2 separate regions of the Homo sapiens genome follow, and region 1 is linked to region 2. A link means that fine-mapping ties the variant in region 2 to the plasma level of a protein whose gene starts in the linked region. Region 2 holds a variant in brackets. A gene starts in the other region. All regions are shown on their forward strands.

Region 1 (2,922 bases), not on the chromosome of region 2:
CAAATGACCTGTATCTGAGCATGCTGATTCTTTCTCCTGCTTGATCTAGTCTGCTGCTGAAGCTGTTTGTGAATTTTTTCAATTCAGTCATTTTGTTCTTTAGCTCCAGAATTTCTGTTTCATTCTTTTTTATGGTTCCTATCTATCTTTTTGTTGAACTTCTAATTTTGCTCATGTATTGTTTTCCTGATTTTGTTTACTGTCTATCTATATTGTTTTGTAGCTTATTGAGCTTTCTTAAGGCAATTATTTTTAGCTCTTGTCATGCAGTAAAGATCTCCATTTCTTTAGGGTCACCTCCTGCTGCTTTATTTCCTTCCTTTGGTGGTTTCTTGTTTCCCCGATTATTTGTGATCAGTGTGGCCTTGCACTGAAGTAGGCACCTATTTCAGTCTTTACATACTAGCTTCAGCAGAGAAAGCCATTCACTAGTCAGATTGACCAGAGATTGTTGGTGGGCTGTCTGTTGGGGTCTATGCACAGGATTTCTGCTGGAGTTCTAAGGTGGGAAGGGCTGGATTCTGGGTTCATTCACTGTGGTTGTCTGTATTCTGTGCACAAGGACTGGCTTGAAGCATGGATCCTTGGGGGCTGACTTGGCACTGAAATGAGCCTTAAGCCTGCGTCTGCAGGGGCCAGCCTAACATGGGGATCACCTGGCACCTGAGTTCATGGGGATAGGCCTGTTCCTGAGTTTATTCAGGCTGTCCTGGGAACAAGGTCCACTGGGGTGAGCCCAGCATCTGGGTCCACATGGCCCAGCATGGAGCCAAGATCTCTGGAGGCTGACCTGGTGCTGGATCTGCAGGGGATGGCCTGGATTCTAGGCCCATGGGTGCCAACTTGGAGCCTGGGGTTGCTGGGGCTAACGTGGAGGCTAGATAGAGTCTTGGGGGCCAGGCTAGAGCTGGAGCAGGCCTGAAGTCTAGGTTTTGTGTGGCCATCTTGGAGCCTGAAGCCCCAGGGGCTGACCTGGTCTGGGGTGAGCATGGGGCTGAGGCCACAGAGGCTGGTCTGGCCTGTGGCAGGCCTGAATCCTGGTGCTGGGGTTTACTGGAGTGGGCTTGGTGCTTGGGATCTGTGGTGAAGTTAGGTTCTATCTTAACTGTCCCTCCTCCATGCAAGAGGGCATCTCTCTCCATACTGTGCTGCCCAGGCTTGAAGGTGAGATGACACCGGTAATGTGAAATTGTCCTTCCTATACACTTCTATGTGTCTTTTCTTATTTCTGTGCTGCAACCAGGTGGCATAACCTCTCACCTGATTCCTTAGCTCTAGTGAAGTTATTTTCGTGCATGGATACTTGTTCGAATTGATGTTTCTGCAAGGGATGAGCGCTAGAAACTCCTGTTCTGACAAACTCCTATTCCTATTCTTGCTGACATCACTCCCTGAAATAGTTAATATACTTAACAGCTGAACACGGATAGGATGTTCATGGAATATGTTGACAGGACAAAAAGTTGAAACTGTTGGCAGAAACCCAAAGTCAATATTGAAGCCAAGCAAAATATTGCCTGCAGTGCCACATTAGAACAGCTTGAAGACCGTTCATTTTTAAGTGACAAGAGACTCACCTCCAAGAAGCAATTGTGTTTTCAGGTAGCAAATTTTTATTATTCTGATTGTTTCCAAATAAACTATAATTTTTAAGTATAATTTTTTACTTTATGAGAAAATTAATCATTTATATTCTAATTTCCTGAGTATGTAGAGAGTATAGATAATGTTCCTTTATGTAGAAATATTTAAATGTAAGATGATTTTAAATCAGAAAGAATATTTGATTGATTTAAAATTTTTAAATGGGCTTTAATATTTTCAGAGGTTTTCTTTACTTAGGGATTTTTGGACTGACATTATTGCCATTATTTATTAATTTTGTTTTTGCCCAAATCAAGAGGTTTCATAATTGTTTACTCTCTCTCTACCAATTCCCTTTCCAACATTACTAGCCACAGAGTTGGCCAATGAACAATAAACACAACAGTAGTCTGGAGGTCTCAATTTGTATCTTGGGAAGCATTATAAATTTTCCAACTCCCTAGACACAAATGTACCAAAAAAAAACCCTTGTTTTCTATACCAGTAATTGTGTGCTTTGTCTTGCAATTCAGACATTTACAAGAAAATCTAAATCACCTTAAATTAAGATTTATGTTAAATGTGGTCTAAAACCAGCAGAGTTATGTATTGTTTTCTTTTTTAGAATGATTTTATTCAAGCAAGCAACTTATTTCATTTCCTTGTTTGCTACAGTTTCCTGTGGTAAGTGAATTATCTATAAAACATGGAATTCAGGCTAAGACAGGAGTAGCCAAGCAAGTGGCACCACCCCTGGAGAAAGCTATTGAACATACAGCTTCGGGGGTGGAGATTGTCCCTGATGATTCAGGACACGTGTCTATTTAATGTTCCACAACAAGGACCACTTGTCAGGTATATTGCTGTAGACATATGTTGCAGACCAGAGGAAGGAGCTCAGAAGTAGGAATGTCTTGGGACTTGTGTTAACAAAAACTTCTGTTCGCAGATGACACTCTGCAAAGCAAAACTTGAAACAAAAAAAAATTAGTCCTCTATTTTTATTATCAACAGTAAAAAATTAAACTTTATCTGAAAATTCAAAAGAGTGCTAGGCATTTTATAGTGTCTGGGTCCAATCCAAGTATCTGTTAGGAACACCATACATAGTTTTACTCTGGACCGCTAGGGAACCATTTCAAAAATGAAAGTAACTGGTTTAAATTTAACTTAGCAAACCATGCATTTGGATAGTTCTAGGTGAATAGCTTTCAACACCAGATTTAGATCTCATTTCTCTATTAATTTCATTAATTTTTGGAGAATAAAAATGATTCTGGACATTTCATTAATCATTACAGAGGGAGTTTTCTCTGTGTCCCCACAAGGCATGATTCT
Region 2 (2,922 bases):
GTGGTAATAACAGTAGTATCAATAATTAAATACTGTGCTCAGTAAAAACATAGGCTCAGAAGCTACCCTAGAGATTAGCTAGTTCAACCATCCAGATGAAGCAAAAACACTCCAGCTTATTTTACAGTTTTTTTTGTTGTTGTTTGGCTGGGTTTTTTTGTTTTTTTTTTGTTGTTGTTGTTGTTTGTTTTTTGTTTTTTTTGACAGAGTCACTGTCGCCTAGGCTGGAGTGCAGTGGCGCCATCTCAGCTCACTGCAACCTCCACGTCCTGGGTTCAAGCAATTCTCCTGCCTCAGCCTCCTGAGTAGCTGGGATTACAGGCATGTGCCACCATGCCCAGCTAATTTTTGTATTTTTAGTAGAGATGGGGTTTCAGCATGTTGGCCAGGCTGGTCTCAAACTCCTGACCTCAAGTGATCTGCTCGCCTTGGTCTCCCAAAGTGCTGAGATTACAGGTGTGAGCCACCATGCCTGGCTATTTTATGGTATTATTAACAACAATAATTAATGTCCACAAATTTTAAGATCAATCAAAAGACAAAAAAAATTATTCATCCTTTCTGGAATGTTAATATAGCATTTAAAATCTGGCAAACACCTCCCCCATTGTAAACTAAGATAACATTGCCAGATCTCAGTGTTTTTTTCTATCATCAATAGCATGATTTTTGCAGTAATACATTCATCTTAATATTTTCTGTTTAGATCTCACTGATGAAAAGGCCTCCAGGTTTTTCACCTTTCCGATCATCACGAATAGGGGAAATAAAAGAAGAAACAACTGTAAGTCCACCCCACACTTCCATGGCACCTGCACAAGATGAAGAGCGGGATTCAGGAAAAGAACAAGGGCATACTCGTAGACATGACTGGGGCCATGAAAAACAAAGAAAACATAATCTTGGCCATGGCCATAAACATGAACGTGACCAAGGGCATGGGCACCAAAGAGGACATGGCCTTGGCCATGGACACGAACAACAGCATGGTCTTGGTCATGGACATAAGTTCAAACTTGATGATGATCTTGAACACCAAGGGGGCCATGTCCTTGACCATGGACATAAGCATAAGCATGGTCATGGCCACGGAAAACATAAAAATAAAGGCAAAAAGAATGGAAAGCACAATGGTTGGAAAACAGAGCATTTGGCAAGCTCTTCTGAAGACAGTACTACACCTTCTGCACAGACACAAGAGAAGACAGAAGGGCCAACACCCATCCCTTCCCTAGCCAAGCCAGGTGTAACAGTTACCTTTTCTGACTTTCAGGACTCTGATCTCATTGCAACTATGATGCCTCCTATATCACCAGCTCCCA[T/C]ACAGAGTGATGACGATTGGATCCCTGATATCCAGATAGACCCAAATGGCCTTTCATTTAACCCAATATCAGATTTTCCAGACACGACCTCCCCAAAATGTCCTGGACGCCCCTGGAAGTCAGTTAGTGAAATTAATCCAACCACACAAATGAAAGAATCTTATTATTTCGATCTCACTGATGGCCTTTCTTAATTTAAGTGGCTATGGGTATTTCTTTCATACTTTATTAAAGTATCAATATCCCTCTCTCCATTGTCCAGATGAAAATATCCTGATATAATGCACCAAAAACCATGCAGCTTCGGAACAGTCTAAAGAGAAGTGGTGAGACTCCCAGTGGAGACACCATCAGTCTCCACGGACTGCATAAAATTGTGTGCCACAATTCTAACTCTTTTCTGAATCTTCTTCCCAAGTTTTCTAAACTAGCACAGTAAACAGACAAACTAATGTGCCGTATGGCCTGCTGCAATTGGCTTCTCTGATAACAAATATGTACCTTACAACATATGTCATGAATTTGCATACAAAGATTCTTGTCATTCTTAATAAACTGTGGCACTTGGTATTTGAATGTGTGTGAAAATAAGGGAAGTCAAGAGATTAAATGCTGAACTTATTAATGGAATAGAAATAATAAGGAGGCTGAGGCTGGAGAATTGCTTGAACCCGGGAGGCGGAGGTTGCAGTGAGCCGAGATCGTGCCACTGCGCTCCAGCCTGGGCATCAGAGCAAGATTCTGTCTCAGAAAAAAAGAAAAAAAAAGAAATAATAAGAAAAACTTCCAGATTTCAAAGTAACAAGAAAGAAGACAGGTTGGCCAAAGGGAGGAAAGGGGGGACATAAATTAATTGACTTTCTATTCCCAAAATGGGCTAGTTATATCAAATAAATACTCCCACTGCCCTTTCTGAGTGAGAGTGTTTCTCATAAGTCAAAAATTTCTGTTTACTCATTAACTACTCTTTGCAACAGGCTTTCATATAGAAGTATTCTGTTTATTTTTGCTGAGCCTAGATTGAGTAATTCTTAGTTTACAGAAGCTCCGAGCTTAATGATAAGGATGAAAAGCAGAGGGAGCAATATAGAAGCAGGCTTGCTAATAAAACTTTTTAAATAATTGACAAGGGAATATTATGGAATGTGATGCAAAGTTTGTTCCGAAATTTTATGAGGAAATTACTCTCTAGTCTCACTTTATAGTCTTTTTGCTATGACTTTGAAGACCATTGATTTTTGAGAAGCAGAATAATAGGATTGCCTTTCATTGCCCTATAGTGCAAAGAAGGTATATGCTTTATAACCAATGTTGTACTTTTGCCTAGAAAAACAAGATATGGCTTTAAATAGCTACAATCATCTTTGGATGTATATGTCACTGCTGCTTCAAGTTATTGGATGCATTTGAACCTCTGAGTTTGTCTTTCATTTTAAATATTGTCTGTTCTTTTAAATAAACAACCACAGATGTCAGGAAAAAGTCTTACCTTGTCAACTGGTTGCTCCACTTTTTAAAAATGATTGAATGATAACATCATATTAACTGCGTTTTACTATACTTACAGAGTCACCTAAGGTCCTGCGAGTACAAGGGTCGA

Which allele goes with the higher level. Positions count from the first base shown, and alleles are read on the strand shown. Strength reflects both the effect of a copy and how common the allele is.
For the plasma level of the protein whose gene starts at base 1,522 in region 1, allele C in region 2 goes with a higher level than allele T (strong association).

The links. PIP is the chance, under the fine-mapping model, that this variant and not a neighbour inherited with it causes the effect. Protein levels are from antibody-based Olink assays in UK Biobank. Linkage for the fine-mapping came from a reference panel and not from the study's own genotypes, which makes the PIPs less certain.
Region 1: KLKB1 starts here. The variant in region 2 is fine-mapped to the plasma level of the KLKB1 protein (UK Biobank, PIP above 0.99).

Annotation. Positions count from the first base shown.
Region 1 is chr4:186,225,986-186,228,907 of GRCh38, forward strand. It overlaps KLKB1 (kallikrein B1), which reads left to right and starts at 1,522. Exons shown (of 15, transcript NM_000892.5): 1 at 1,522-1,602; 2 at 2,210-2,268. The coding sequence starts at 2,211. RefSeq lists an enhancer at 29-699.
Region 2 is chr3:186,740,816-186,743,737 of GRCh38, forward strand. It overlaps KNG1 (kininogen 1), which reads left to right. Exons shown (of 10, transcript NM_001102416.3): 10 at 707-2,922. The coding sequence ends at 1,516. Among named protein-coding and RNA genes, the nearest start is that of KNG1, 25 kb to the left of the region's middle. The variant T/C (reference allele first, on the strand shown) is at 1,323.